Linked DNA regions of Homo sapiens. The protein of the gene in region 6 purifies or fractionates together with the protein of the main gene of each other region. This does not show direct contact. Each region holds a gene or a part of one and is shown on either strand. Other genes may lie near its edges. The genes, in order: MCOLN2, CTPS2, CAMK2D, PALS1, WASF1 and CYFIP2.

Region 1 (3,500 bases), on a different chromosome or scaffold from region 6:
TTTTTCAAAAAATGTCAGCATAAGCTGGGCATGGTGGCTTAGGCCTGTAATCCCAGAGCTTTGGGAAGCTGAGGCAGGAGGATCCCTTGGGCCCAGGAGTTTGAGACCAGTCTGAGCAACATAGGGAGACCCCCATCTCTAGAAATAATAATAATAATTAATAATAATAAGCTAGCCAGGAGTGGTGGCAGGCACCTGTAGTCCCAATTACTTGGGGGGGCTGAGGCAGGAGGATCGCTTGAGCCTTGAAGTTTGAGGCTGCAGTAAGCTGTCATTGTGCCACTGCACTCCAGCCTGGGTGACAGAACACGACCCAGGCTGGAAAAAAAAAAGCTAGCATTTATATGTGTATATAGACATTTTAAAGTCTAGAAGCATGTGAGCCAGCCAAAAAAGCCTCCATATTTTTATAATCTCTGTGAAGTAGTATTATAGGTAATCTTAATTTTCTTCATTAAGTTTTCCATATTTTTTTCATTTTTGGTGGTTAACGTATGAATTCTTGAGTTATTATTATGAGTTAAAATGGGCCATTTCAAAAAGAAAGAGTCTGGTATGTATCAGCTAGTCAGGTATTTCCCTGCCTTAGTTTGTGCACGACTGGTTTGGGGTAGAGGGTGGAAGAAGTGATAGATACGGAGACTAAAATTCAATGTTTCTACAGTAATGACTGTGTTGGCCCCAGGATAATACCAGGGGCAGTTCAACAGATAAAATGCTTTAGACCATTCCTAACAACTCGCACGTCATTTTTTCACTCCAATTCCTACGATGAACAAATTTTCTCGTGATCTGCTAGTCTCACAAGAGAGGAAGAAAGAAAAATATCTAGCCAACTGAGGTTTTGAGGTAGCTGAGTAGGGCAGGCAGATGTCAATTAAGTGAAGTTGAGGGGAAAAAAGGCAAAGAAGAAAACTTTGGTTCCCTTCTCAGCACAGCTCTCAGAACATAAATGACATGGTCATTCTAACCCTAAGAAGCCCCCTGAAGAAAGGCCATAGGGGCTTTTCATTTTCCATTAGAGCCACTCATGAAAGATGAACATGCTAACCCTTCAGGAGTTTTCCTACAGACAACCGTGCCACCAAGTTCCTAAAAATCACCTCTGATCACCACTTTGCTGCCTCTGAACACCAGGAAAGCAGAACTAGGGCTGCATACTTTTAAAGTGCTTCTTCTAAACAAGCCACACTCCTTTGGAAACTAGAAGAAACAGTTCTCTGAGGAAGAGATAAAGAAAGGGAAACTCCATTTCTCAGCAATAAAGGATTCCACATGCAGTTAAAACTGAGGAAGATGACTGGAATTATGACATTTCCTAACATTTTTCTTTCTCCAATATTTTCAGTAAGAGCCCAACTTAATAGAGTCATGCTGATGACTCTCCCTAAGGAAAAGAAATTATAAAGAAATAATCATTTTTTCCTCAAAGCATTGAGGTTACCTTAATTTTGGACAAGCCCAACTCAGTTTCATGTTGGTGAATCCCTACATTCTAGCTATCTCTAGAAAATCCCTGTAGTTGGCATAAGTAGTACAATTTTTTAAGGCCACCATTTAAATTGTGGGTCTTCTAGAATTACACCAAAGACTATTTTCAAGAATCTTCTGCCTCATGAGTTATCAATTATTGCCTCGCAGATGTTTTAGGCTGAAATTACAGAGATGTATTCAAGGGGAGAAAACAAAACACAACCTTCAAAAGAGAAGAAAGGAAACAGCCCACCCAGCTGAGGGAAAAGGAATATGGACAACATTCGCTGGACACAGTCTCTCATACCAGGAAAAAAGGGGCTGAGGCCCAAGCTCAAAACAGAGTAGAAAGCTCAGCTATAGGCAGGCTGAGAAGAACGGGAAGAAAAAAAAATTCAGATGATTGCCAAAGCAAACAAATAAACAAACCAAAAACATGGCTGTAAACATTTAATACTGAACAGAACATTGTAGTTTGATAAGATGAAGTCTGGAAATAAAATTACAGGCACACCTCAGAGATATTGCAAGTTTGGTTCCAGATCACCACAATAAAGCAAATACTGCAGTAAAGCAAGTCACACAAATTTTTTGGTTTTCCAGTGCATATAAAAGTTATGTTTACACTATACCATAGTCTATTAAGTCTGCAATAGCATTATGTCTAAAAAAACCACCTTAATTTAAAAGTACTTCATACTAAAAAATGCTAACAATCATCTGAACCTTCAGCAAGCTGTAATCTTTTTGCTGGTGGAGGGTCTTGCCTCCTTGTTGATGGCTGCTGACTGATCAGGGTGGTGGTTGCTGAAGGCTGGGGTGGTTAGGGCAATTTCTTAAAAGAAGACAACAATGAAGTCTGATATATCAATTAACTCTTCCTGTCACAAAATATTTCTCTGTTGCATGCAACGCTGTTTGATTGCATTTTACCTACAGTAGAACTTCTTTCAAAATTGGAGTCAGTCCTCTCAAACCTTGCTGCTGTTTTATCAACTATGTTTACGGAATATGCTAAATTATGTGTTGTCATTTCAACAATGTTCATAGCATCTTCACCAAGAGTAGATTCCATCTCAAGAAACCACTTTCGTTGCTCATCCATAACAAACAACTCCTCATCCATTCTAGTTTGATCATGAGATTGCAGCAATTCTGTCACATCTTCAGGCTTCTCTTCTAGTTTTCTGGGTATTTCCACCACATCTGTGGTTAGCAGATCGCTGCAAAAGTAATTGTGTTTTTTTGCCATTAAAAGTAAGGACAAAACCCACAATTACTTTTTCACTGACCTAATACTTCCTCTACTGAAATCTGGACCCCTTCAAAGTCATCCATGAGGGATAAAATCAACTTCTTCCAAACTCCTGTTAATGTTAATATTTTGACCTATTCCCATGAATCATGAATATTCTTAATGGCATCCATGATGATGAATCCTTTCCAGAAGGGTTTACTTTGTCCAGATTCATCAGAGGAATAATTTTCGATGGCAACCTATAATGTTACAAAATGTAGTTCTTAAATAATGTCTTTTTTTTTTTTTTTTTTTTTTGAGACGGAGTCTCGCTCTGTCGCCCAGGCCGGACTGCGGACTGCAGTGGCGCAATCTCGGCTCACTGCAAGCTCCGCCTCCCGGGTTCACGCCATTCTCCTGCCTCAGCCTCCCGAGTAGCTGGGACTACAGGCGCCCGCCACCACGCCCGGCTAATTTTTTGTATTTTTAGTAGAGACGGGGTTTCACCTTGTTAGCCAGGATGGTCTCGATCTCCTGACCTCATGATCCACCCGCCTCGGCCTCCCAAAGTGCTGGGATTACAGGTGTGAGCCACCGCGCCCGGCCAAATAATAAGTCTTGAAAGTTGAAATTACTCCTTGATCCATGGGCTGCAGAATGGATGTTGTGTTAACATATATGAAAACAACATTCATCTCCTTGTACATCTCCATCAGAACTTTTCAATGATCAGAGGTATTATCAATGAGCAGTAATATTTTGAAAGAAATCTTTTTTTCTGAGCAGTAGG
Region 2 (3,500 bases), on a different chromosome or scaffold from region 6:
AAAAGCTGGTAAAAGATGTATTTGTAAGCCATATTCTATCACCATCTCCTTTTTGGTGGAGATATTAACAATTCAATTATATCCAAGAAAATGCATCAGAAAATTCTATTTATAATATTCTATTGTGGTTTTTTTTTAATCTACTGAAATTCTGTCTTCAAGATTTAGCTTTTCCAAACTCAACATATGCCACATAAAAAAGACATGAAAACAGAAATTTTAAAAACAAACAGCATTTTACTTCAAAGCATCAGTATCCTGGACTCTGGAACTGCGATAAGAAACTTTTACTTGATTCTCATCTTGATTAAAGCCATAATTAGACAGTAGATGACAAAGCAAGGCCACAGCTAACCCATAAGGCAACTTGGTGAAAGTGAGGGAAAAAGCCTGTGTGTGCCATAAGCTACGTGCACAATGCACTGTCATAAAAGACAGGTGCAGACTTCGTCACACGAGGAGCACCAACTTTAACTACTAGACACGTCTGTAGATCTCTATTGTCACTTCAGGGCATGGACTGAGAGTCGTATGTTTCTAAAGCCACCTTGTAAGAATTGAACCTTTCCCCTATTAAGGGAACTATCATTTATTCCTACTGTTAGATGTCCACAGGAAAAAAGGTTGATTAACTTACAAATTTAATCAGAAGCCTTTTATATCCTAATTTATTTATCCATTCTAAGGTACATAACTGTGGTCTAGAAAATTAATTTTAAGGAAAAAAGCAAATTGATATCACAATACTTTTTTTTTCAATTTTTTTTTTCAATGTTTTTTTTTGAGACAGAGTTTCGCTGTCAACCAGGCTGGAGTGCAGTGGCGTGATCTCAGCTCACTGCAACCTCCGCCTCCTGGATCCAAGCAATTCTCATGTCTCAGCTTCCCAAGTAGCTGGGATTACAGACATGTACTACCACGCCTGGCTAATCTTTGTATTACCATTATTATTATTATTATTATTTTGAGACAGGGTCTCACTCTATCGCCAGGCTGGAGTGCAGTGGTGCGATCTCGGCTCACTGCAACCTCTGACTCCCTGGTTCAAGCAATTCTCCTGCCTCAGCCTCCTGAGTAGCTGGGATTACAGGTGTGCACCACCACACCCAGCTAATTTTTTTGTATTTTTAGTACAGACAGGTTTTTACCATGTTGGCCAGGATGGTCTCCATCTCCTGACCTCGTGATCCACCTGCTTCAGCCTCCCAAAATGCTGCGATTACAGGCGTGAGCCACCGTGCCCGGCCTATTATTTTTTTAAATAGAGACAGAGTTTCGCCATGTTTGCCAGGCTGGGTAGGAGAATCGCTTGAACCTGGGAGGCGGAGGTTGCAGTGAGCCGAGGTCACACCACTGCACTCCAGCCTGGGCGACAGAGTGAGACTCTGTCTCAAAAAAAGAAAAAAAAAATCATTAAAAAAAAATCCAAAGAAAATTTGGTGTAACACATGGCATTAGTCAATGGTGCCACACAACAAACAACCCCAAAATCTCTGCAACTTACAAAACATTTATTTATTTCTCCCTCATGTTACATGGGGGCTATGAGTCACTTGTGAGTCTATTCTTTGTGTCTTCTCATTCCAGGACCCAGACTGAACGAGAAATCTCTGAAAACCAGGCTGTTCTCATGGTAGAGGGCAGAAGCACAAGACAGACTGAGCCAAACCACACAGATGCATTTGACATTTTCTGCTTCAACAAGGCATATGTTAATATTCCCTAACATCCCATAGGACAAAATAAATCACATGGCCAAATAGAGTGACCAACCTGCTTGGTTTGCCCAGGACTAAGAGGGCTCCCAGGACACAGGACTTTCTGTTTTAAAATCAGGAACATTCCAAACAAACCAGGACAAGTTAACTATCCTACGTGGCCAAACTCCAAGGTCAAAGGGCAGGGAAATGTACTCCACAGAGGGATGGTGGGTAACATTTTGAAGCAAAAATACAATCTACCACAGACTTGAATAAGTCATTCACAAACAAAATCAAAATCAAAGAACTCTAAATTAAAACAATAAGATACCCTCTTTTTGTTTGTTTTATTCTCAGGTTAGTAAAGTTTAAAACACGATATTCAAGGCCTGGTGCAGTGGCTCATGCCTGTTGCAGTGGCTCATGCCTGTAATACCACCACTTTGGGAGGCCGAGGTAGGAGGATTGCTTGAGCCCAGGAGGTCGAGACCAGCCTAAGTAACATGGCGAAATCCCAGCTCTATAAAAAAATTACATAAATTAGCCAGGTGTGGTGGTGCACACCTGTAATCCCAGCTACCCAGGGGACTGAAGCAGGAGGATCACTTGAGCACAGGAGGTGGAGGTTGCATTGAGCCGAGATCTTGGCCACTGCACTCCAGCCTGGGCGATAGAGTGAGACCCTGTCTCAAAAAACAAAAACAGGAAGACAGGATAGCAACAAGGGACACAAACATTTTTTTTTTTTTTGAGATGGAGTCTCACTCTGTCACCCAGGCTGGAGTGCAGTGGCGCAATCTCGGCTCACTGCAAGTTCGCCTCCTGGGTTCACGCCATTCTCCCACCTTAGCCTCCCGAGTAGCTGGGACTACAGGCGCTCGCCACCGCGCCCGGCTAATTTTTGTATTTTTAGTAGAGACGGGGTTTCACCGTGTTAGCCAGGACGGTCTCGATCTCCTGACCTCGTGATCCGCCCGCCTCAGCCTCCCAAAGTGCTAGGATTACAGGCGTGAGCCACCACGCCCGGCAGGACATGAACATTTCTGTTTCTTGATCAGGGGCTGGTTACACAGTGTGTTCATTTAATGAAAATTCATCCAACTGTACACTTATGATTTATGCACTTTTTTGCTTGTATATAAAAAGGTTTTTTTGGGGGTTGGTTTTTTGTTGTTTTTGTTTGTTTGTTTGTTTGTTTGTTTTGAGACAGAGTCTCGCTCTGTCGCCCAGGCTGGAGTGCAATGGCTCGATCTTGGCTCACTGCAACCTCCGCCTGCCAGGTTCAAGTGATTCTCCTGTCTCAGCCTCCTGAGTAGATGGGACTACAGACACGTGCCACCACGCCCAGCTAATGTTTTGTATTTTTAGTAGAGACAGGGTTTCACTGTGTTAGCCAGGATGGTCTCGATCTTCTGACCTCGTGATCCACCTGCCTCGGCCTCCCAAAGTGCTGGGATTACAGGCATGAGCCACCGCACTGGGCCTTATAAAAAGTTTTTTAAAAATAGCATGTAAGGGCTAATGCCATTTTAAAAATAAATCAAATATACTCATACATCAAAATGTCACCATTAATAATAGTTACTCCAGGCAGTGGGAAATGTTAAGAGAAACACACTACCTTTATGTTAAAAATAAAACAGAATCTGTAGTGCAAAAGATACAATGTTTCCAAAAGGGATGATTAATTTGGAATGTCATCAGAGGTATGAACAATGTATCAATGACCATGAGAAAATTCACATATTCATAGCATACGATCTAGTCACTCTAAATCTGGAACTACATCCTAAAGAAATT
Region 3 (3,500 bases), on a different chromosome or scaffold from region 6:
TGAATTATATTCTCAAATATCTATCACATAATTTTATATTATATACCAACAATATTTTGCTGTGATCACATATCAAATAGAACATTATCCCACTATACCAGTTTCTGGGTTTTGTTTTTTGTTTTTGTACTGTTTGGGATACTATGCAAGCTTTCATTTGAAGAATGAGTTTCACAATTGAAAAATTTGAAAATCATAATTCTAATAATATATTTAATTTATAATTAGAATATTTGAAAGTAGATATATATATATACATTCATAAATTAAGTTCAGAATCTGAAGAGGAAGGCTTTATCTACTTTCTCTTTATGGCTTAACTTTGTGTTTATGATATAATTTGCTCTCCTTTGATACATATTCTTGTAAATATGATTTACCACTTTCTCAGGTTTCCCCTCATACAGCCCTATGGAAATCCATGTGCAGGGTCTGGGCATGCTTTCCATGTGTTATTAAGTAGAGTAACTACAGAGTAGCAATATTGGGTTCACCTTTTGTGCACAAGTTGAAAGCTCAATGTGAAAGTGAGAGGAGAAGATATAAAATGTCTTTATTATATTCTATAATGTCTCGTGAACTCTTCAATGCATTTCTGATAAAAATTTTCTATTTAGATGGATGTGTGTGTCAGCAAGAATTAAAAATGTATATTCTTTGAATTTCAAAGCATTGCATTATTCCTAGACTAGTAATTGGAACAAATTATTATTTACATGGCAATAGCTAGCACATTCACCATCTTTACAGACTAGAACCAGCCCCTCTCTGGGCAGACGTAGCCCTGAAAATGCACTGCTTGGTATACCTAGAGGAATGCTTTCATGAAAATTAGAGAACTGAGGAAAATGTTCACCTTTCTTCATGCTGAACCTACCGCTCATTTGCTATCAGAAGACCTGTACAACATTAAGAAACAGCCTCGTGTGTTTCTTTAACAGCTCCTAATAGTTAGCAAGCTTTTACAACTGCCAAAGATAAGCTTCAGGAATTAAAAAATGGCAATTGTTTAGCTGGCAAAAATTACAGATATTAGAGTCAATATCATTTTTCTCATGCTTTATTATGCCAGTGAGTCACAAGTTCCCCATTTTAAAACTACTAAAAATGGACTAATTTAATTCCATGACACAGTGGCAATGGCTTTATTTTTCAAGATTGTCCATACAAATTCATGAATTGGGAAAATAACCTGATATTCTATCATTTTGCAACTAATGTGGTGTAAATTTCCCTTCATCGTTGAAGGACAGTATTTCTACTAAATATGCTAATCATATAAAAGTAAGTTAAGTAATTATCACTACAAAAAATAATGTAAAGAAAGGAGAAGTAGCTTTCTTATATAGTCTTAATATAAAAAAGTATTAGTAATGGGAAGTTATAAGATTTGATTACTTTCATATACTTTGGTGAAATTTGTAATTGGGCAGATTAAACTTCTTGAAGGGTTAAAATGAAATCTTGCTGAAGCTCCTGTAGTCTCAGATTCTTCTCACTACAGCACTCCAAGTAGCCCTGATTAATAGGTCAGTTTTGGCACAGGAATTGAAGCTGTTTTATTACCTCTGCTATTACTGCTTATGAGTTGTGAAAGTATATAATACCTCATTTTGAACCTTGGCATAATATCATGATGACATTGGTACATGTAGCAACCTGTTTGCTTTTATTAAGTTTTGCAAATAATTATGAGAAAGATTGTATAAAATTTCATTTTCAGATCAAAGCAGAGATACTTTGAGAAGAATAGAAGATTCTTAAGTTCTTTTTTTCTGAATTTTAAAATGTATTTACCATATGTGATATGCAGCTCAGTACATATGTTGGTCCCTTATCAGATACTCTTTAATATATATAGTTGTCTACATAGAGGGGGAGAATAGATCTAAATGGTTTTATTTATTTTAGATACAACTTAACTTATATAAAAAGTAAATTTATGAAGAAATTCACTACTTGAGGGAATGATTCATGTAGTTGACTCTTCCCTGTTTGATCGAGTGTGTCTATTTTTTAAACTTTTTATAAATTTATATTTTTGAAGTTTCCATCACCAGAATGGGACACGGTGACTCCTGAAGCCAAAGACCTCATCAATAAAATGCTTACTATCAACCCTGCCAAACGCATCACAGCCTCAGAGGCACTGAAGCACCCATGGATCTGTGTAAGTAAAACTTCTCCAAAACTTCAAGAACTAAAATGAAAAATAAGCTCTCCTTTAATATATTGTTTATGGATTTAAAATAGCTTTGCAAAAAAAGATGAAACTCAGAATGAATGAATTTTTGACTCGAGGTGTTTAAGAAAATTAATTTTATGATGGTGAAAAAATGCAATTTTCAGTAGCAAAGTCTGAATTGCATAGATTCTTAAATAAATATTGCTTGCAGTAACAAAAGGAATGAGTATTCTCCATATCAATTATTAACAATACTCATGAACAAGGTTAAGAAAATAACACCAAAATTAAATGTGTCCCAGAAGAAAAGATTTAACAAAGTTCAATTATTTATCATTAGGCAACTTTAGAAACAAGTATGAAGTTTGGCAGCTGACAGTAGAGTTTCAGTGGCGTAAAATAATGGTCATAGTAGTCTGAATATATTTTAGAAATATTAAGAAGAATAGTGTGAAATTTGAGGGGGATCTGGAGACTTCAGTAAATTTCCAAATGTGTCAAATGCTAAGGTGATAAATGTGGCACTAAGTAAATGAAAGGCAGCTCAATCAAAATGTGATTGAAGACATTAAAATAAAGATAATTTGAGAAATTATTAATATTCATTTCTATACTTTCTGGTTTGGTTTTGTTTTGTTTTGAGACAGAGTCTTGCTCTTGTCACCCAGGCTGGAGTGCAATGGCACGATCTTGGCTCACTGCAACCTCCACCTCCCAGGTTCAAGCAATTCTCCTGTCTCAGCCTCCCGAGTAGCTGGGATTACAGGTGCCCACCACCACGCCCGGCTAATTTTTGTATTTTTAGTAGAGATGCGGTTTCGCCATGTTGGCCAGGCTGGTCTCAAACTCCTGACCTCGTGATCCACCCGCCTTGGCCTTCCAAAGTGCTGGAATTACAGGCGTGACCCACCGCGCCCGGCCCATTTCTATACTTTCTATACGTCAGTGTTGCATCTTGGTCACAAGTAGTCTTGGCAAAACTAAAATTTTATTTTTAGGTAACTTTGGCAATTGAATACTTAGAAGTTGATCCTGCAGGTGCAGCACCATTAATAAATATTTGATGAAGTCAGGGACATTATTATACTTAGTGTGTTTTAAATATTCTCAATTAAGTTACTTTTTCTCCTCTTCTTCTAGCAACGTTCTACTGTTGCTTCCATGATGCACAGACAGGAGACTGTAGACTGCTTGAAGAAATTTAATGCTAGAAGAAAACTAAAGGTAAGAAATTTTACATTTTTATGGGGAGGTAGATTTGACAGACTAAGAAGTGAAATACTGTGTGAGGAAAATAACTTCTAGCAAAGGCTTT
Region 4 (3,500 bases), on a different chromosome or scaffold from region 6:
TTTTTGTATTTTTGGTAGAGACAGGGTTTTGCCATGTTGGCCAGGCTGATCTTGAACGCCTGGCTTCATGTGATCTGCCTGCCTCGGCCTCCCAAAGTGCTGGGATTACAGGTGTGAGCCTTCACATCCAGCCAACTCTGCACCTTTTTAAAATAAAAAGTAGAAAATAATTTCAGTTTCAGAATTTTTTTTATAGTTATAGGTGGGTTTACTTAACTTAGTATGGAGTAGGGCAAGTGCTTTTTAAAAAGTATGTGTAACCCTTCTTTTAGAGTATATTGTTCTGTTAGACATTTACTCAGCTAGATCTGTTAAAAGTCAGTCTCCATTACCATACAGTCAAGCAATTGCATTCCAAAGTATATATCCAAAAGGACTGAAAACATATATTCACATAAGAATGTCTACATGAATGTTCATAGCAGCAGCATTCACAGTAGCTAGAAAGTAGTAACAACCCAAATGTCTGTCAGGTGATGAATCAAAGACAAAATATGTATGTATGATGGGATATTATTTGATAATTTTAAAAGCCTACAGTACTGATATATGCTACAACATGGATGAACCTTGAAGAAATTATGCTGAGCGAAGGAAGCCAGTCACAAAAGGCCATATATTGGTTCATTTATATAAAATGTCCAGAATAGGTAAATCCATAGGAGAGAAAGCAGATTAGTAATTCCTTAGATGTGGAGATGAGGATTTATGAGGGAATGGTGATTACTAATCAGTACCAAGTTTCTTTTTGAGGGCATAAGTATGTTTTAAAATTGTTTGTGGTGATAATTGTACAAATCTGTGAATAAACTAAAACCATCCAATTGTGTACATGAGTGAATTGTATATGAATTATATATCAATAAAGCTATTTAAAAATGAAACTTTAAAGTGTTGAATTAACATGGAAGCTTGATGTATTGCATCTGTTATTCTTAACTTTAAAGCATAGCAGTTTGAGAAAGAACACAGTTTCATTTTTCTCTCAATATTTCATCACAGGTATGCTTTATAGTTTGGCTATCATTCCATGTTTTCCCTTAATTTTTTACAGAACATACGGAAGTTGATATTGTATCTGCAACCTACTTTATGTTTACAGTTTTTTTGCAGGAAGAGAAATGAGGAAATATAGTTTGTCTTTGAATTTAAACAGCTTGATTCTCTGTGCATTGTGCTGTTCCCTGTATCTCTTCTGTGTATAAGCCCTGAACTTCAAAAGTAGCTCTGCAAACTGAGGAAACATAACAGAGGAGGGTTGGAATATACTCCTACTTACTTATCTACAATAATCCATCCCTCCTGAGTAAATGACTTTTGTCTTTTGAGAATAAATGTCAGAAGTTAAGACATTTTTTTTTTTTGAGGTGGGATCTGGCTCTATTATCCAGGCTGGAGTGCAGTGATGTGATCACGACTCCTGCAGCCTTGACTGCCTGGGCTCAAGCAGTCCTCCTACCTCAGCCTCCCTAGTAGCTGGAAACACAGATGCATACTACCACATCCGGCTAATTTTTTTGTACTTTTGGTAGAGATGGCTTTCACTATGTTGCCCAGGCTAGTCTCGAACTCCTGAGCTCAAGTGGTCCACCCGCCTCGGCCTCCCGAAGTGTTGGGATTACAGACGTGAGCCACAATGCCCAGCCAAGACATGTTTTCTCAACATTTTTTTCCTGCTATTCATGCAGAATCTGGAATTCTGTAAAAGAAAAGCCATTTTTTTCATGGATAGAATTAATCGAAGTGTTACATTGAAACTTGTTGATTCTCGTTGTATGCAAAACAGAATATCAAAGCAATTAACTTACACAGATTGTTTCAACCTAAGAATGAAATAACTTACTTATCCTTTAGTGGTTATTTAACCCCCAACTTTCATTATTGATTAAGAATAAAAGGCTGGTTTAATCTGAAGACCAAAGGAATATAGGTTCATGGTGAACAATCTCTGGAACTACTTAACTGGAAAATGAAGTAGCTTAAAAAGGAAGAAAGTGGGAGAAAGAGCAAAATGCCACATCTATCCCTTTTAAAATGGAGCTTTTTCTGTTCTTTTTACTTGGAGTCTCACTCTTGTCACCGAGGCAAGCAGTGGCACCATCTGGGCTCACTGCAACCTCCGCCTCCCAGAGTCAAGCAGTTCTCCTGCTTCAGCCTCCCTAGTAGCTGAGACTACAAGTGCATGCCACCACATCCAGCTAATTTTTGTATTTTTAGCAGAGATGGGGTTTCACTATGTTGGCCATGCTGGTCTCGAACTCCTGACCTCAGGTGATCTGCCCGCCTTGGCCTCCCAAAGTGCTGGGATTACAGGCATGAGCCACCGAACCCGGCCTATTTTCATATTTAAAGTAGGGATCTTTTCAGAATAGAGTGATGTGCAGTATTTTTCTTTTCCTTCTTTTCTCTTTTGTTTTTTGTTTTTTTTGAGACAGAGTCTTGCTCTGTCGCCCAGGCTGGAGTACAGTGGTGCGATCTTGGCTCACTGTAACCTCTGCCTCCTGTGTTCAAGCATTCTCCTGACTCAGCCTCCCAAGTAGCTGGGATTACAGGCGCCCGCCACCATGCCTGGCTGAATTTGTGTGTGTGTGTGTGTGTGTGTTTGTGTATTTTTAGTAGAGACAGAGTTTCACCATGTTGGCCAGGCTGGTCTTGAACTCCTGACCTCTGATGATCCGCCCACCTTGGCCTCCCAAGTGCTGGGATTACAGGCATGAGCCACCATGCCCAGCCCCTTCTTTTCTCTTTTTATTATGAATAACTCTCAATTGCAATATATCTTGCCAAGTTTTGTCAGACCTAACTGGCTTAAAATGAACTGCTATTATTAAAGCTCATTGAGGCTGTCCAGAAAGGAAACAGTAATAGGAAATCATAATCTTGGTTGACATATGCAGAATAATTATCTATGGAATTAATAATCTAAAGAAATTAGAACCAATTTATTGAGTATCATTATGGTACAGGTCAGCATCTGTTGATAGCAGCAGCAGCAGATATCTTCCTGATTTATGTTTTGTGATGTTAGAAATGTGTTTAAGACAGATATACAAAATAAGTGTTATCTGAAACCCCTATATAATGACTTGTTGAATTATGATGTCATGTATGGCAATAATAAGCTGTGTCAGAAGTGCTCTCTTGAGTTCTTAAATTTCTTTTGTATCACACATAGCAATCAGTGGCTGCTCTTTCAGTAGCAGAGGGCAAGAGTCTTGGCACCTCTGTATTTCACTTCCTGAGTAACTGGCACATTTGATCTAGGAAATGCATACATTATTCAAACGTACAGTTTCCTTCTCTCGGCCTTTTTAAAAAAAGGAAGGATTGGATTTCCCAGACTAGTTTGTAAAACTTTAGATTATTCTATACTATAATAATATGTAGGGAGGGCATAATAGACTTTTATCTGAATGGGACTTTTTCATTTAGTCTAATGCCATAATCTAACAAGGAGTGTATTTAAATGAAGAAGGATCACATCGCTTATTAGTTACAGA
Region 5 (3,500 bases), on a different chromosome or scaffold from region 6:
TGTTTTTATAAATAGAGTTTATTTCAACACAGACACATTCATTTGTTTATGTATATTCTATGGTGGCTTTCATGCAACAATGGCAGAATTGAGTACTTGTGACAAAAACTGTAAGGCCCGAAAGCCAAAAATACTTACTATATCGTCCTTGAAAGAAAAAGCTTACTGACTCCTAAGATAAAACATCATATGCTTGTTCCAACATACCTGATACAGGTGGGTATCGGTTTTGCATCTCCTGCTCCATGCATTGGTGGAGGTGGAGGTGGTTCATGTGGTCTGACTAATACCCTTTCCTCAGCTCTAGTCAGAAGCTCACTCATCTGACTAAATGGCAAGGCAGAAAGTGAGTAAGATCCATCCATATGATCCACGTATGTCTGAGGTCTAAAAGAAATATATAGTATCAGTGAATTATTCTTGAATTATTGGGAGGAAAGGGTTCTACATGAGATATTAAATATTTAAAGTTTATCCTTTCAATGCCAATATTTTAACTATTTTTAAGAAACTTTCAGAAATGTATTATATTAATCCTGCTTTTAAAACAAAGAATGCTGCTCACAATATAACCCTTACTTGTTGATTTAGAGATCTACTATGATGACCATCGGTTATTTTATTATTTTATAACAGAATACTAATTCAACTCACAGGATGAAAAGCATTACGTACGTAATTTAATAAACAAGAAAATAATTAACTTTTAGCAAATTGTGTGGAAAGCTATCTGCCTCTATTTAGTTCTTTACAAGAAGATGCCAATGACAGAAAGGTAGAATAGGAAAATGAGTTTTCTACTACTAGTATATCTCGGTGTGCTCTTAAACTTAAATGACTTCTAAAAGTCTTGCACCAGAGAGAAAGGCCTCCCAGATACTAGCAGCACAGAGGTGGCTAGCTATATTGTTTCTGTCCTTCTGCTGTTTTCAAAGGTGCAAGGGTACTCAGAAAATAGCTGAGTAACATAGCAACATGTGACTTAGATGTAAGCAAAATTTTAGATAACTCGAACATGTTAAGATTTATAAATATTTGCTAGTACATTCTTGGGAAAAAGTTGGATTTAACAGATGTGCACACAGCAAGTCAGAAATTATTGTATTTAGTGAGTCAGATAAGTACCTTAATTACTCAACTGTAGTAGAAATAAATGTCTAAAGTTTATTAATTTTTTAATGTCAATTCTTTCAGTAATACAGATAAATAGTATCTCTCAGATGTATATTTCTCCTAAAATAGGTCAAGATGTTGCACACTTATGGCCCAATCATTTATATGTATATTACTTAAAAGAAAACCTTAAGCTCTTTTCCATTAAAAAATCATATGACTAGGCTGGGCACAGTGGCTCACACATGCAATCCCAGCACTTTGGGAGGCTGAGACAGGCAGATCACTTGAGGTCATGAGTTCAAGATCAGCCCGGCCAACATGGTGAGACCCCATCTCTACTAAAAATACAAAAATTAGCTGGGCGTGGTGGCGTGTGCCTGTAATCCCAGCTACTTGGGAGGCTGAGGTGGGAGAATCGCTTGAACCCAGGAGGCAGAGGTTGCAGTGAGCTGAGAGCACACCACTGCACTCCACCCTGGGCGATAGAGCAAGATTCTGTCTCAAAACAAACAAACAAACGTATGACTATACCCAAATAAGTGTCTTCGTAGACAGATGCCAGTTTAATGTGTTTGCTGGTAGTATGTTATTTAGTTAGGGCCCCTGGCCACTAAGAAAGGAAAAAATCTTTTCTACAAAAGGGATCAATACTTTTGTTTGAAAGTCCTAATATATCTGAGGTGGGCAATGTGGCAAAGAAAGGAAGTCAGGGGAAAGTAAAAGGAACAAAACAGAACCCCTTCTTCACTCCTATTTTATATGCAATAAATCAACAGTATTTCAAAAAAACCCCAGACCCTAAACTTTTATTACAAAATTCTAGCAGACTGTGCCTGAAATATCGAGAGGCTATTGAGACGTCACACTAAAGCTAAAACCCTAAAGATCAGCCACTCCAACCACTTCTTTCTAAGATGACAAAACTAAGGTCCAGGTATGAAAATGACCTGCTCAAGGCCTGACTTTAGTAGGCTCACAGTGGTCAGGATTTTGAAATAATCTCTATATTTATAACAGGGTCTGCCTGTTCAACAGTTTAGGACTCAAGACTTAGAAGTACAGATACTACAAATAAAGCCAATGTTTTATCATTTAAAAAAAAAAACAAAAGTAAAGAAACCTTGTTTCAAAATGAGAGGCTGGGCCATTAGCAACTTCAATATGCTTATGTAAGAGATTAGCATCATCTTCAGCCAGCTCTGGACCTTGGGCCAGCTTCTGCCATTCTCGCCGCCTGTCATGAGGTGCTCTTGGCACTTTTTCTGGTTCATGAGGACGATCTAGATTTTTCTGCTATAACAGATGTATTGAAACAAAGTCAAATGCTTAAGCGCTAATTTTTAAAAAGGAGGTTATAACAATCAAATTAAACTCTAACATCAACACTGAAAAAGACAATGTCATCATAATATAGTAAAAGTAACACAGAAATGGTTTACTTGTACATTCAGTTAAATCTTAGCCAGTCTGCTGTAATCCCAGTTTCCTGCCATGTTTTGTTTAACCCCTAATTTGAACTGATGCACCAGACACAAAACAGTATGCCTAAAGAATACAATTTGAGGTCAGAAAGTCTTTCAGATGAAAAAAGACTCATGAACCCTTGCTCCACAGGCATTAGTTTGAAATTTCTACGATGAATGGCATTGTCTGCCCCTAATCAAAACGTAACAATTTACTAAGGTTATGTTATCTGGGAAGTAACTGATTAGCTAGCCAACACATTAGAAAAAAATCCAATTATCTAATTAACCGATAATAACTATATCACTCAACAGAAAACATTGTCTTTAAACAATAAAACAAAAAGTGATTCAAAACTGGGGGAGAAAGTACAGAAAGGGCTAGAGTAAGTGTAACAAATTCAAACGCCCAAAGCGGCCAAGCGGATAACATACATGAATGAAGCCAGTCGGGTGTAAGATGGGGCATGAGGTGAGCTAGACAGACATGTCCATCTCAGGCACTCTAGTTCCAAAATTTAAAAACCTCTGTGTTTGGCAAACAAAACACTCCCTACAGGCATAATCTGGCTTGCCAGTCACCAATTTGCAAATGTTAGCTAGAACACTGGGTTACCATCTAGCAAAGAAGACAATACAATGGCATTATACAGGGATTAGGGAAAGCAGAGATAGCTACAGGAGAACCAGAGAGATGATAAAGACAGAATTTGCCTCCTTCATAATTCAACCTAAATCTAACTTTGCTTCATCCTTCTGTGTTTTCAGTTATCATTAACATGAAATATAAAGCAGATACAAGTGAATTTTATTAGAAAGTGGAAAATGACAATAACAGAAATTTCATGTGAATATAATAACCTCTCCAAAACATTTAGGAGAGAAATGTTTAGGATGTGCTCTGTAGCAACAAAATACTAG
Region 6 (3,500 bases):
TATGGCTGTATAATATTGCATTGTGTATATAGACCACGTTGTGTTTGTCCACTCAGGTTGCTGTCACCTTTTGGGTATTTTTGAAAATGGTTAATTTTGGCTACCATGAAACATGGGTGTACAAATAACTCTACAAATTTCTGCTTTCCATTCTTTTGAGTATATACCTGGACGTGGAATTGCTGGATCGTATGGTAATTCTATGTTTAACTTTTTAGAAACTGCCATTCTGTTTTCCATAGTGGCTGCACAATTTTACATTCCCACCAGCAGTACACAAGAGTTCCAATTTCTCCACATCCTCATCAGCACTTATTCTTTAATAATAGTCATCCTGAGGGGTGAAAAAGTTATCTTGTTGTGATTTTGATTTGAATTTCCCTAATGACTGTCACTGCTGAGTGCTATATTCATGTGTTATTGGCCATTTGTATATCTTCTTTAGAAAAATGTCTATTCAAGTCCTTTGTCCATTTTTTTAATTGAGTCATTTTTGTTGAGTTGAAGTTCTTTACATATTCTAGATATTACTTATCAGATATAATTTGTGATTATTTTCTATTTTTCGGTTGCCTTTTCATTCTCATGGTGTCCCTTTGATGCATGAAAGTTTTCAATTTTGATGTAGTGCAACTTTTTGCCTTTGCTTTTGATGTCATACCCCAAGATATTATTGCCAAATCCAACATCATGAAAATTTTTCCCCTATATTCTCTTTTAAGAATTTCAGTTTAATCTCATGGTTACGTCTCTAATCCATTCTGAGTTAATTTTTTGTATATGGTATAAGGTAAGCGTCCATTGTTATTTTTTGTGTGGGTATCCATATTTCCCAGCACCTTTTGTTGAAAAGGCTGTTTCCCCCATTGAACAGTCTTGGCACCCTTGTTGAAAATCATTTGATCATATGTGTAATAGTGTATTTCTGGGCTCTCTATTCTGTTTTATTCATCTGTACATCTACCTTTTTACCAGTGCCACAGTGTTGTTGATTATTGTAGCTCTGTAGATCGTTTTAAAACTTGGAGAGGGTTTTTACGGTCCAGTTAACACTTGATTGCCAGATCCAGGGGATTCCATAAAAGGACTTTAAGAAAGTGACATGATCACTGATGCAGGGGACCCTGGACCTCAGTGACTTCTCCTGTTACTCCCTCTTTCCACCCCCACTTTGTCCTGCCCTAACTTGAACATCCCCTTCCTTCTGTAGCCCCTGAAGAAGATGGCCGACCGGATCAGGAAGTATCAGATCTTGAACAATGAGGTTTTTGCCATCCTGAACAAATACATGAAGTCCGTGGAGACAGACAGTTCCACTGTGGAGCATGTGCGCTGCTTCCAGCCACCCATCCACCAGTCCTTGGCCACCACTTGCTAAGCAGAAGATCCTGCAGACCCTTATCTGGAGGAGGAAGAGAAGCAGGAGAGAGAAAGCCACAGCCAGCCTGCCATAGGATCCAACTGGACAACGTGTGGGATGGACCTGGAAACAAGCACCTCCCCAAACACATCACCACTCCCTAGGGCGGGGCCTGTGCATGCTCTCCCATGACATCTCCATGCTGGTTTCTCCATAGCATAAATGAAAAAAAAAAAAAAAAAGTAAACAGGGCAGTGTGTGCTTTTTCTTTTCTCCCCCCTCAACTATATTAAGAACTCCTAGTTTCACCCTTTCTCCATCCCATCATCCCACCTATCTGTGGTTGCTTCCCAAGACCTCCTCCCAAGATAGACATCTCCTACCCAGTGCCCTTGTGTGACCCCAGGACTCAAGTCTCAGACTGTGAACAGATGTGGCCATGCCCAGAGACGCCAGCCTGGCCAGAAGGGCATGCCTCAGCTTACTACTTCATCTCTCCTGGTTCCCTCCCTGCAGTGCCCCGGGTGTCATCTTCTCCCACTCTGGGTACCAGGGATTCTACCACATAGGCTTCCCAAAGCCCCATTCTAACTCCCCTCTCTCAGGGAAGCCCTAGAGAGAGGTCCAAAAAGCATTCACAGCTGTATCACACTCTATGCAGGTGGGGTAGGAGACTGATCAGGCCTGCTGTGGGGAAGCAGTATGTATGAACACAGCCAGAAATGTCATAGTCCAAACAGGATGCTTTCAGGCCATCTCAGCTGCTTGATGGTGAGATGGTTCCCTTATTCCTTCAGGAAAGGCTTAGCATTGGGCCACATAGGGGAAGCAGCTTTGAACAAATCAGTCATAGCACTGCCTATAGCATTAGCCAGTGACCAAATTAGGGACAACGTCTTGGCACAGAATTGCTTATCAAGGAACATTTCCACAAGAAAGAAAATATTAAGGGGTTATTTCCACAGAAGCCCAAAACGTCTTGGAAACACAGAGGTGAGGAGGAGGAATAGTAATTGTCAATGAGCTTTTAATACCAAGATACACCCCCTGCCCCCAAAGAAGAGTCCTCTTTTAGGGAATCAGAACCTTCATTGTCCTAGAAGCTGAAAGATTCTTGGAACATTTTAGCTTTTACTCTCAACTTGCTGTTCTCTTTACATTCCTTAAGTTAGACTTTCGGGTGTGGCTTCTCTCCCAGGGGTAACATTTACTTCCATTTTCTAGACTGAACCAAAAGTCTTCTGCAGAATCTCCCACCGAGTGTGGTAAGAAGGAAGGACAAAAGGCTTTAGGATATAAATTTCATGTTACAGAGCATGTCATTGTCAAAGGAAATCTGTGGCCCTGAGATTTTAAGAACATAAAATGTGACATTTGATATTTCTCCAGCCCAGGGAAGTAAGATGGTTAGCAATGGTTGCCTTAATCAAATGGTCCCATTTTTAACCCCAAAGGAAGTGCCCACAGCAAGAGGTTTGTGTGATGCACTTATGTCCTCCGGTGAGGAAAGGGGGCCACATATGAAAGGCCCCTTAGGTCAGATCCTGAGAGTAGCACATTTGAGTGCAGATTCCTGGGCCCCACCTCAAACCTACTAATTCTGAATCTCTGGGAATAGGGCCAGGAAATCTGCCCTTTCTACAAACTACCCAAGTTGTTCTGTTGCACATCAATGTTTGGGAACCACTGCTGTAAGGGAATCATTCTGGTCACCTTGAGCTTTGAGCTACCACTAAGCCATGAAAGAAAATACATCATACAGGGAAGAGAGAAGGGAGGAGGTTCCAAGTAGTAACTGGCAGATCCTCCTGTCTGGAGGTACCACCTTCTATTCTGGTTTCTGACTTTTCCTTCTTGATGACCATAGATGTGTTCCAGAGGCAAAAGAGACACATTATCCCAGATGGCAGAACATGCTTTCAAAACATATAAAATGTCAAAGTTCCAGATCCTTCTACATCTTTAGTCCTGTCTGAGGATGGTAGCTGGCTCTCTGTAGCTGATAGATGGCTAGAGTTCCATCCAAATCCTTGACCACGACTTCATGGAGATTTGAATAATCTATTTGATGAGATTTCTATTTCAATAACCCACCTCTCTCACCCCACATTCATATCCCTAAATTTGACCCTCTGGGCCG

The links.
Region 1: the proteins of CYFIP2 (region 6) and MCOLN2 fractionate together in Homo sapiens (co-fractionation; one large-scale study listed by BioGRID). This does not show direct contact.
Region 2: the proteins of CYFIP2 (region 6) and CTPS2 fractionate together in Homo sapiens (co-fractionation; one large-scale study listed by BioGRID). This does not show direct contact.
Region 3: the proteins of CYFIP2 (region 6) and CAMK2D purify together in Homo sapiens (co-immunoprecipitation; one large-scale study listed by IntAct). This does not show direct contact.
Region 4: the proteins of CYFIP2 (region 6) and PALS1 purify together in Homo sapiens (co-immunoprecipitation; one large-scale study listed by IntAct). This does not show direct contact.
Region 5: the proteins of CYFIP2 (region 6) and WASF1 purify together in Homo sapiens (affinity purification with mass spectrometry; 2 studies listed by BioGRID and IntAct, with this or other methods). This does not show direct contact.

The regions. Positions count from the first base shown.
Region 1 is NC_000001.11:84,990,614-84,994,113, forward strand, and holds part of MCOLN2 (mucolipin-2), read right to left. Parts: intron 1-3,500. UniProt on the Homo sapiens protein: Nonselective cation channel probably playing a role in the regulation of membrane trafficking events. Acts as a Ca(2+)-permeable cation channel with inwardly rectifying activity.
Region 2 is NC_000023.11:16,699,170-16,702,669, forward strand, and holds part of CTPS2 (CTP synthase 2), read right to left. Parts: intron 1-3,500. UniProt on the Homo sapiens protein: Catalyzes the ATP-dependent amination of UTP to CTP with either L-glutamine or ammonia as the source of nitrogen. Constitutes the rate-limiting enzyme in the synthesis of cytosine nucleotides.
Region 3 is NC_000004.12:113,513,739-113,517,238, reverse strand, and holds part of CAMK2D (calcium/calmodulin-dependent protein kinase type II subunit delta), read left to right. Parts: intron 1-2,047; coding exon 2,048-2,170; intron 2,171-3,325; coding exon 3,326-3,409; intron 3,410-3,500. UniProt on the Homo sapiens protein: Calcium/calmodulin-dependent protein kinase involved in the regulation of Ca(2+) homeostatis and excitation-contraction coupling (ECC) in heart by targeting ion channels, transporters and accessory proteins involved in Ca(2+) influx into the myocyte, Ca(2+) release from the sarcoplasmic reticulum (SR), SR Ca(2+) uptake and Na(+) and K(+) channel transport.
Region 4 is NC_000014.9:67,303,935-67,307,434, forward strand, and holds part of PALS1 (protein PALS1), read left to right. Parts: intron 1-3,500. UniProt on the Homo sapiens protein: Plays a role in tight junction biogenesis and in the establishment of cell polarity in epithelial cells.
Region 5 is NC_000006.12:110,103,171-110,106,670, forward strand, and holds part of WASF1 (actin-binding protein WASF1), read right to left. Parts: intron 2,410-3,500; coding exon 2,237-2,409; intron 388-2,236; coding exon 208-387; intron 1-207.
Region 6 is NC_000005.10:157,391,623-157,395,122, forward strand, and holds part of CYFIP2 (cytoplasmic FMR1-interacting protein 2), read left to right. Parts: intron 1-1,210; coding exon 1,211-1,378; 3' UTR 1,379-3,500. UniProt on the Homo sapiens protein: Involved in T-cell adhesion and p53/TP53-dependent induction of apoptosis. Does not bind RNA. As component of the WAVE1 complex, required for BDNF-NTRK2 endocytic trafficking and signaling from early endosomes.